2 separate regions of the Homo sapiens genome follow, and region 1 is linked to region 2. The links come from fine-mapping of genetic effects on gene expression. A gene starts in region 2. The other region holds a variant in brackets. All regions are shown on one strand. Distances are between the middles of the regions.

Region 1 (5,372 bases), 160 kb before region 2:
ACCCCTTACTTGGTCTTGGTGCAGGGGCCTGGCCTCGTGTCAGGCTTGGCAACTGCTCCTGTTTCTTCCAGGCCTAGCCACTCAGTATGGCCCACTCTTTTAGGTATCTTCAGTTATGAGGATTTTCTCTCAGAAACCCCTTTATTTCTTTCTCCAAGCCTGCTTTGGGGGAAATTTCCTAGGTCATGAGAGAGGGCCAGGCAGGATGATCCGCAACTGTGAGCTGGGCTCAAACTCCCATCCAGCTCCTGGGCTTCAAGGAAGTGGATGGGCATCTATGGGAGTGGACGGCTGGGCACCATCCTGTCACTCAGGGGCTGGTCTGGCCCAAGTGCCCAGAGGACCTCTAGGGGGCAGTGTCATGCCATTCAAGACACATTGGAGCCAGCTCATTCATTCAGTGGTGAAATTCATGTTTACTGAGCCCCTCTTGTGGTAGATACTCTGGGAGGTGCTAGGGATGTGGTGGTGGGGATGTTTCAGGCCTGGGCCCTGACAAGGAGAGAGGAAATCAAGCAATCCCACATAGTACTCCACTCTGTGAGGGAAACAACCCAGAAAGGAAGATAGATGTGGCTCTAGGTGGATGGGAGAGGAAGTCAAGACCTGAAAAACCAGGAGACAGATGTTCTGCAAAGAGCTGGGGAGAGAATGCATGCAGAGGGAACACTGGTACAAAGGTCCTGACCATACTCAAAGCCAGTGTGGCTCCAGGGGCTCCAGATGGAGCTCATTCAGCTGTGCCATGTGGGACGCAGCAGTGAGGAACGTGGGCCTTACTCCAAGTGCGGTGTGTAGACAGTGGAGAGTTTTCAGCAGAGGAGTGACATGATGGCACATATGTTTTCCAGTGGCCACTCTGACAGCTTCTAGGTGAATGGGCTAGAAAGGAGGCCCCGTGGGAAAGACAGGTTTTTCACGAGGCTCACACAGCCATCCCAGGCCAGAGATTCGAGGCCCAGGCTAAGGGTGGTGGCAATATAAATAGATGCAAATGGAGTCAGGCTATCTTTGGAGATGAAACTGACAATTCCTGATGGTTGGATGTGAGAGAAATGGAAGAATCCAGTGCCATCTTATGTACACGGAGAGGAAAATAACCAGGATCCTAAGACACATCTAATTATTAAATCCATTTTTAAAAAACGTAATCTGGATCTTGCTGCTGTAGTTCAGGGTTTGGGGGGCTCTTTTAAACACCCAGCCTTCATTGTGACACGTCTTTTCCAGTATGCAGACCCTGTGGCTGACCTCCTAGACCGCTGGGGTGTGTTCCGGGCCCGGCTCTTCAGAGAATCATGTGTTTTTCATCGTGGGAACTACGTGAAGGACCTGAGTCGCCTTGGGCGGGAGCTGAGCAAAGTGATCATTGTTGACAATTCCCCTGCCTCATACATCTTCCATCCTGAGAATGCAGTAAGTGGCCCCAAAGAAAGAAAATGTCGTGCTCCATCTGAGCCCTCTGTCTTGCCAGGCAGGTACCACTTTTGAGCACCTACACAAGAAGGTCTCTGGGCCTTTTCCTAATGAAATCCCAGCTCTGCCATTTAGCAGTTGCGTGTCATTGACCAAGTTATTTAACCTCACTGAGCCTCGGTTGCCTCATCTGTCAAATGGGAATTATAGGAATGCTGATCTCATAGGATCATTGGAGGTTGCAGTGTGGCAATATATAAAAAGCACTTAGAATAGTGCTTGAGACTGGTAAATGCTCTATAAGCCTGTATCGTCTTATTGACATTTTTAGTATTGTTATTGACAAGGGTTCTGCTGGCAGTAACCTCCTGGAGCCAGCTACTGCGTAGGACTTCATGACCCCTGTAGACTAAGGAGGCCTGGTTGATCTCTTTAACAGAAGTATTTCTTAAGAATGAATAGGCCAGGTGTGGTGGCTCACACCTGTAATCCCAACCCTTTGGGAGGCCGAGGCAGATCACAAGGTCAGGAGATCGAGACCATCCTGGCCAACATGGTAAAACCCTGTCTCTACTAAATACAAAAAATTAGCCAGGCGTTGGTGGCACGCACCTGTAGTCTCAGCTACTCGGGAGGCTGAGGCAGGGCAATCACTTGAACCCGGGAGGCGGAGGTTGCAGTGAGCTGAGATCCCACCACTTCACTCCAGCCTGGCGACAGATGGAGACTCCGTCTCAAAAAAAAAAAAAAAATGAATAAAACACTTCAATAAGGTCTTCAAATAAGACTGCCAAGCTTTGCTACCTCATCATGATGTCTAAAAAGCACCCATTGGGAACATTTCATTCATAAAGCTCCCTGGACCATGGCAGCTCTCGGTGCCTACTCACTGGGTGCAGCACAACTCTCAGGGCAAGAAGGACTGCCTTCCTGCCTGCTGCCTGACACTTCCAGGGGAAAAGAGGCCAACCAGGGCCTCTGGTGACTGCTGACCCCTCAGTCTCTGCCACATCAGGCCCCTAGACCAGGCATTTTTCCCTGGAGAGGATGCTTCCTCTCAAGCACAGGCTTCTCAGATTCTACAAAAGCCTGCAAAGTCCTTTCCTTGAATCCAGAACTCTGCAGTCTCGCTTATAACCAAAAAAAATTCAAACTCAATTAATTTGGCTAGTGTGGAATCATTATTTGAATAAATACTCCAAATGTATTTCTATGTAAATGTGTTCATTTTACTGAGTAAATCAAATTCAACATAATATATTTGGTAACGTGTCTCTAACAGATAAGGATTGCTTTTTAATATAATCACAAGTCA[C/T]GGTCAGATCTGACAAAGTAACAGTTTCTTACATTGTCTAATATCCAGACTGTGTTCATATTGTCCCTATCATCTCGAAGTGTTGTGCATTTGGAGTATTTCAATCGGGATCCAAAAAGATCCATGCATTGCTTTGGTTACTATGTCTCTTCATTCTTTTGCAATCTTAACACGTCTCCCTTTCCTCCCCTTTTCTCTTTTATGCCATTTATTTGTTGAAGAAGCCCTGGTGTTTTGTCTTGTAGAAATCTCCTACATTCTGGATTTGTCCAGCTGCTGTCTTGTGATGATGTTTAATATGTTCTTATAGCCACCTTATATCCTCTAAACAAGTAATTAGAGCTCTACTGCTTGATTAGATTCGATTTTTTTTTTTTTTGCAAGAATATATCATAGAGGCCAGATGCAATGGCTCACACCTATAATCCCAGCACTTTGGGAGGCCCAGGCAGGTGATCACTTGAGCCCAAGAGTTTGAGACCAGCCTGGGCAACATGGCAAGACCCCATCTCTTAAAAAAAAAAAAATTAGCCAGACGGGGTGGCAGACACCTGTGGTTCCACTGTCGTTCCAGCTACTTGGGAGGCTGAGGTGGGAGGATCTCTTGAGCCCAGGAGGTCGAGGCTGCAGTGAGCCATGTTCATGCCACTGCACTTCAGCCTGAGTGACAGAGCAAGACCCTATCCCAAAAAAAAGAAGAAAAAAATAATACATCATGGGTATTATACGCTTATGAAGATATCATATCAAGGAGGCATAAAATGTCAGGTTAGCCCACTTTTAAAGATTTAAAATTCATCATTGGGTTCAGGTGGTGTTAGCCTGATCCATCTATTATAAAATTCTCCCATGAACCTTTCACCTCATAATTTTAGCAGTTGTTGGTGATCATTGTCTACACCCACTATTTCATGAGGAATTGCAAAATGGCAATTTCTATTTTCAGACTAATGAGTTGGTGTTCTAGCGGCCTCCAAAAGTAGCCAATAATTTTTTTTTAGTATCATTATGAACTCATGGATTTGTTGTAGTTTCAGTCCATTTATTATTCTTTTGCATGCTCTAATTTTCACCTTTGGCTATGGACACTAATAACAAGTCTTTGATATAGGTTGAATATTCTTTATCTAAAATGCTTGGTACCAGAAGTGTCTTGGATTTTGGATTTTTTAGGATTTTGGAATATTTGCATATACATAATTGGATATCTTGGGGATGGAACCAAGTCTAAACATGAAATTCATTTCTGTTTTATGTACAGCTTATACACATAGCCTAAAGGTAATTTTATACAATATTTTTTATAATTTGGGGACACTAAATAAACTGTGTATCATGTGCCTGTGTTTTCACTACCACCTGGCACACGAGGTCAAGTGTAGAATTTTCCACTTGTGGTGCCATTGCTCAAAAAATTTTGGATTTTGAGGCATTTCGGGACTCAGATTTTTCAGATTAGGGATGCTCAACCTGTAGCTTCCTTACTTTCTTAAACAACAAGATGTTCCAGGCTCATGATGAACATTTCTTGCCTCAGCCCTGGAACCAGCCATTTTTGTATGGTGCCTGGTCCCTATTAGTGGAAGTGGTATTTAGAGACCACAGTTTAGGTGGATTTTCATTGCTAATGGGATATACTTTACTTCTAGCCCATACTACAGGGCAGAGCTAAAAATGACATATTTTTAGAAAGAAAACTAAATCATAAGTTCATACTGGTTTTTCCAATACAACGTTACGTTTTTATGTAACTTCTTTGCTTGTTTTGTTTTTGTATCCCTTTCTCTTATGCTGCAACTCTTGATTTCTAAAGATATTAACATAATTATATAATTGATCTGTAGTGTATGTTTAATAATTTCAGTAGCGGTACTAAATTATGGCTAATAATAAGACAACTCTATGCAGTTTAGGAATTTTTAGAGAGATGTACAGTTATAACACCATGTTTTAAAATCACTTGAATGCCAGGCTTGGTGGCTTACCTGGCTGCTTGCAATCCCAGCACTTTGGGAGGCTGAGGAGGGAGGATTACTTGAGCTTAGGAGTTTGAAACCAGCCTGGACAACAAAGCAAGATCCTGTCGCTACTAAAAAAAAAAGAAAAAAAAAAGGCTGGGGTGGTGGCTCATGCCTGTAATCCTAGCACTTTGGGAGGCCGAGGTGGGTGGATCACCTGAGGTCAGGATTTCAAGACCAGCCTGACCAACATGGTGAAACCCTGTCTCTACTAAAATACAAAAACTAGCTGGGCATGGCGGCAGGTGCCTGTAATCCCAGCTACTCAGGAGGCTGAGGCAGGAGAACCCAGGAGTTGGAGGTTGCAGTGAGCTAAGATCACACCATTGCACTCCAGCCTGGGCAACAAGAGCAAAACTCCATCTCAAAAAAAGAAAAGAAAAAAAATTAGCCAAGCGTGGTGCCACATGCCTATAGTCCCAGCTACTTGGGAGGCTGAGGTGGAAGGATCACTTGAGCCCAGGAGGTCAAGGCTACAGAGCTATGATTGCCACTGCACTCAAGCCTGGGTGACAGAGTGTGACGCTGTGTCACACACACACACACAAATCACTTGAAGTAATTGTGTGGTTGTGTCACCAATTTTATATACACTTAGATTCACTTTTATTGCTTTTTTTCTT
Region 2 (5,328 bases):
ACGGAAGAACGGGGAAGGCCCAGCGCAGGGCCTGAGTGGTTCGCTCACCGACACAGATGTCCCCCAGCTGTTCCGGCCTCAGATTCACGTCCTTGAGAACCGCGGTCATGACTGCCGAGAGAAGCTCGTCGGGGGTGGTGTCCTGCAGCAGAAAGAGCAGCCGCAGTGACCCCCACTCCCCCATGCCCACCCCAGGGAGACAAAGCGACCACAGCTGGGTGCGGAGCTGCCTCCGGCGTCCAGGATAACCAAACATACGAACCGGACCCCAGCCCGCGCCGGCGTCTTCCCACACTCGGCGCCCAGACCCTCGGGCCTCACCTTGAAGCCGCCGCGGCCCGCCCGGCAGATGGCCGTGCGCCGCCCGTGCACCACCACCACGTCCGCGGCCGAGGCCTGCGGGGCACCGCTCAGGCAAGGCGCGGCCTGCGGCATCCAGCCGGAATCGGCCGGACCCCTCAGGTGGCCCAGCACTACCTGCAGCCTCTGCATTGCGCAGGTCAACCCTGCAGACCAGCCACCAGTCCGGGAACTGACCGCGGAGTTAACAGACAGCCGTCCGCACACGCGCAGAACCACATCTCAGCCTCCAAGGCCTCAACTCCGCCCACAGCTCTGCGAACAGACGCGAGCGACCCTCCAAAAGTCCCGTCCACCTCCAGCCTCAGCCAACCACAAGGAGAGTCGGCCTGGGAACCCGCCCCTCCCCGCCACCGCCTACCAAGCCCTCTATAGGAGGGCCCACAGGCACCGCCCAGCCGAGCTTTCCACTCAATGCCCCGCCTACCTTGGCCTACCGCAGCCAACCAGAAGGTGTATCTTTACGAATCCCCGCCCAGAAATGCAGACCGGAAGTCTTTCCACCTTTTGTAGCCAAACCCGAGACCTGACCCCCAAATCCCTGTCTCCTGCCCGCAGCCAAACGGAAGGCTGGGCAGCCAGGACCGCTTACTGCTTGGGGGCTGGAGATGGAAGCCGAGGCTCTAATTCCTCTACCCACTTCCTAGGAGGCTCTGCTATCCCTCCGGTCCCAGTACCCGAGCTGGGGGACCTAAATACTTCCGAGACGCCCGAGTCCTGCTCCGACGTGGTTGGGCTTTCCCATTCTTTCGAGAAGACAGGGAATTTGGGCTTCCGGGCTGGCCGGGAGAACAGATTTTACAGACATGCGGGGTGTGACAAGCTCTCTAACTGGAGAATGAACATTTCACACTTTTACCAGTTTTACACCCAATTGGAATGATTTTATTAGTGCCCATTTCCCGTGCTAGGCTGGGGTCTCCACCAAGGCAGAGAGGTACCATGTATCCGGGGAGCCTGCGACACCCTTGACACTTAGTAGATGATCAATAAGTACTTGTCGAATGAGTAAATGAATGAACCAGGGCTCCCCAGGTCAGGACTGTGTCCCTAAACCTAAAGGGCAAGGCCACGTGCCCCCTTGACTCCCAATAGCAGGGCCATGTCTTCACCTGAGACCCTGGAGAGTAGTGCTGGGCTTTCCACAGACACCAAAGGACAGGGTGCCTTGTGCTCCCCAACCTAGTGTCATGACGTCCCCAACCATTTCGAGGGCAGGGCCACGGCATGCCTCAGGCTCCAGAAGGCAGCTGTCCGTTTCCCACTCCCACCTCGGGGAGCACAGCAGGGGTCTTCCCATACCCCTACTGGCAGGATTGCGTGTTCCCCAGAGACAGTGGAGGGCAGAGCTGGTGCCTTCCCACTTGTCCCCTCCTCGCCATCCTCGAGGGCAGGACCGTATGAACCCCTCAGATTCCTCCGTGGAAGAACTGTGGCTCCACCAGATCCCAAAAAGCAAGGCCCGTTTCCTACAACCCCCGAAGGAGGGTCGTCCTCACTCCGCCGCCAACCTACTAGCACCATCACCAGACCCTCGAGGGCGGTGCCGTGGACCTCTCCAGATCTCAAAAGGCAGATTCCTACTTCTTACGCCCCCCACATCACCCGCCTCGAGACCTCAAGGGTAGAGGTGGGCACCCCCGCCTCCGCACTTTTGCTCGGGGCTCCAGATTGTAGGGCAGGGCGGCGCTTCTCGGAAAGCGAAAGCCGGCGGGGCGGGGCGGGTGCCGCAGGAGAAAGAGGAAGCGCTGGCAGACAATGCGACCCGACCGCGCTGAGGCTCCAGGACCGCCCGCCATGGCTGCAGGAGGTCCCGGCGCGGGGTCTGCGGCCCCGGTCTCCTCCACATCCTCCCTTCCCCTGGCTGCTCTCAACATGCGAGTGCGGCGCCGCCTGTCTCTGTTCTTGAACGTGCGGACACAGGTGGCGGCCGACTGGACCGCGCTGGCGGAGGAGATGGACTTTGAGTACTTGGAGATCCGGCAACTGGAGACACAAGCGGACCCCACTGGCAGGCTGCTGGACGCCTGGCAGGGACGCCCTGGCGCCTCTGTAGGCCGACTGCTCGAGCTGCTTACCAAGCTGGGCCGCGACGACGTGCTGCTGGAGCTGGGACCCAGCATTGGTGAGGACGTCCCCTTCCTGGCCTCGTACCTGGGGGGTGAGGAGGCTGACTTTCCGCGGCCTCAGCATCCTGTCTCCCATGGAGAGACCCCATTTCCTGCCTCGGGGGCCCGAAGAAGCCTGCAGAGGGAGAACCATGCGGGTCCCGTTCCTTCTTAATAACCGGTCGCGGTTATTAAGAAGGACTGGAGAAAGGTCCGGATAGGCGGAGATGGGAAGGAAGCAGCTTAGGCAGAGGCTTTCAGGTAGGGCCAGGAGTCAGAATCAGGCTTCTGTGGGGGCATCTGGGCTGTTTCAAGTAGAGCAACAGGACAGGTGGGGCGATTGACAGTGGACTGTCTTAGAAACCTCAAGTCCTGGGGAAATGCAGCCCTTCTTTCTACTCACTGGCACTTACATAATATACATGCATAGGCGTTGGATACAGCCGCCCACAGACAGGCACACCTTGCTGAGTTGGAATCACTGCACCATAACCAGTGGGTCTCCTGAGCCTTTCTGGCATGCCCAGCCCCTTGCTCACATCTGCCCTGGATCCCAGAAGAAGCAGACCTACCTTGGTACCATTCTTAGGATCCCTAGGAAGGGACAGAGATACAAACCTGACTTTGATGGCCTTCCAGAAAGCCAGAACACCACTGACATCCCTTTGGGTCAGTTAGAGCCAGTGGGAGCTCAACTTCTCAGAGCCGTTGAGCTTCGCGTGGCACCAGTGAACTGGGGAAGCCCTCTAGAACAACCCAGCCAGAGGAGGTGGGACAGCGGCTGGATCCTGACTGTGGGTAAAGAGGTAGGCACTCCCAGGGAGGCTGCTTTACTCTGTCTCTTCCCCACAGAGGAGGATTGCCAAAAGTATATCTTGAAGCAGCAGCAGGAGGAGGCTGAGAAGCCTTTACAGGTGGCCGCTGTAGACAGCAGTGTCCCACGGACAGCAGAGCTGGCGGGCATCACCACACTTGATGACCCCCTGGGTAAGGGTCCAATACTGTTCCCATGGGACAGGTGGAATAGGACATTGTGGTGTTAAGAGCATGGGTGTTTGAAGCAGATGGGCTGTGAGACCTTGGGCAAGTCACTTAATCTTTCTGAGCCTCAGTTTCCTCACCTAAGAAATGGAGATAATAGTCCTACCTCTGGATTGCTGTGAGATGCTCATGAAATAATGTCTGTCTCGTGGTTAATCCAGAGCTTAGCCCCTGAGGTACTCATCTTTCCTCTCCTGGAAAGGGCACTTTCTCTGAGGAGTATCATCTTGGGAAGGGTGCAGGGCCCAGGGTTGCCTAGGCAGGGGACTCTTGGCTGGATCCCTCCCAAGCCTTCCCATGGAGCTCTGACCACCACCCTTGTGCTCTGCACCCAGGGCATATGCCTGAGCGTTTCGATGCCTTCATCTGCTATTGCCCCAGCGACATCCAGTTTGTGCAGGAGATGATCCGGCAACTGGAACAGACAAACTATCGACTGAAGTTGTGTGTGTCTGACCGCGATGTCCTGCCTGGCACCTGTGTCTGGTCTATTGCTAGTGAGCTCATCGAAAAGAGGTTGGCTAGAAGGCCACGGGGTGGGTGCGTGGATGCATGAAGCCCTGCCCTGGGGTCCAGATACTGGGCATCTCCTCCTAGCTGTGCACTGTCCAGCCTGGGCACAGTGGGCCCTTCCTGAAGCTATTCCCAGGGGATATGCTGAACTAAGTTGCCACAGGACCTGCAGCCTGCCCACTCTCCCCTAGGTGCCGCCGGATGGTGGTGGTTGTCTCTGATGATTACCTGCAGAGCAAGGAATGTGACTTCCAGACCAAATTTGCACTCAGCCTCTCTCCAGGTAAGCTCAACCCTGCTCTGGCAAGAGAATGAGGGAATGTGTAGGTGGGGCCTCTGGATTGTCAGCCTTCCCTCCCCAAGGACTGTGGATGCAGTACCAAAGAACTGCTGAAGATCTCTGCACACCTGAGCATGTGTGCATGTGTGTGCCTTTTTGTGTGAGTGAATGTGTGCCAGGGGTACTTAGATGGGGGATGGCTGTTGTTAACCCTGGGGTTGAAGACTGGGCTTGTCCCACCATGGGGCAAGGGCCTGATGCCAGCATGGCACCCCTTGGCTTGCAGGTGCCCATCAGAAGCGACTGATCCCCATCAAGTACAAGGCAATGAAGAAAGAGTTCCCCAGCATCCTGAGGTTCATCACTGTCTGCGACTACACCAACCCCTGCACCAAATCTTGGTTCTGGACTCGCCTTGCCAAGGCCTTGTCCCTGCCCTGAAGACTGTTCTGAGGCCCTGGGTGTGTGTGTATCTGTCTGCCTGTCCATGTACTTCTGCCCTGCCTCCTCCTTTCGTTGTAGGAGGAATCTGTGCTCTACTTACCTCTCAATTCCTGGAGATGCCAACTTCACAGACACGTCTGCAGCAGCTGGACATCACATTTCATGTCCTGCATGGAACCAGTGGCTGTGAGTGGCATGTCCACTTGCTGGATTATCAGCCAGGACACTATAGAACAGGACCAGCTGAGACTAAGAAGGACCAGCAGAGCCAGCTCAGCTCTGAGCCATTCACACATCTTCACCCTCAGTTTCCTCACTTGAGGAGTGGGATGGGGAGAACAGAGAGTAGCTGTGTTTGAATCCCTGTAGGAAATGGTGAAGCATAGCTCTGGGTCTCCTGGGGGAGACCAGGCTTGGCTGCGGGAGAGCTGGCTGTTGCTGGACTACATGCTGGCCACTGCTGTGACCACGACACTGCTGGGGCAGCTTCTTCCACAGTGATGCCTACTGATGCTTCAGTGCCTCTGCACACCGCCCATTCCACTTCCTCCTTCCCCACAGGGCAGGTGGGGAAGCAGTTTG

Evidence for each region. PIP is the estimated chance that this variant, and not a neighbour inherited with it, causes the effect.
Region 1: its variant is fine-mapped to the expression of MYD88 in whole blood (TOPMed, PIP above 0.99).

The regions. Positions count from the first base shown.
Region 1 is chr3:37,974,479-37,979,850 of GRCh38, forward strand. It overlaps CTDSPL (CTD small phosphatase like), which reads left to right. Exons shown (of 8, transcript NM_001008392.2): 7 at 1,231-1,416. Among named protein-coding and RNA genes, the nearest start is that of MIR26A1, 7.8 kb to the left of the region's middle. The variant C/T (reference allele first, on the strand shown) is at 2,732.
Region 2 is chr3:38,136,544-38,141,871 of GRCh38, forward strand. It overlaps MYD88 (MYD88 innate immune signal transduction adaptor), which reads left to right and starts at 2,118. Exons shown (of 5, transcript NM_002468.5): 1 at 2,118-2,485; 2 at 3,321-3,455; 3 at 3,845-4,025; 4 at 4,214-4,305; 5 at 4,589-5,328. The coding sequence starts at 2,158. The coding sequence ends at 4,743. It overlaps ACAA1 (acetyl-CoA acyltransferase 1), which reads right to left and starts at 584. Exons shown (of 12, transcript NM_001607.4): 1 at 322-584; 2 at 49-142. The coding sequence starts at 492. RefSeq lists enhancers at 1,699-2,642, 1,802-2,211, 2,712-2,841.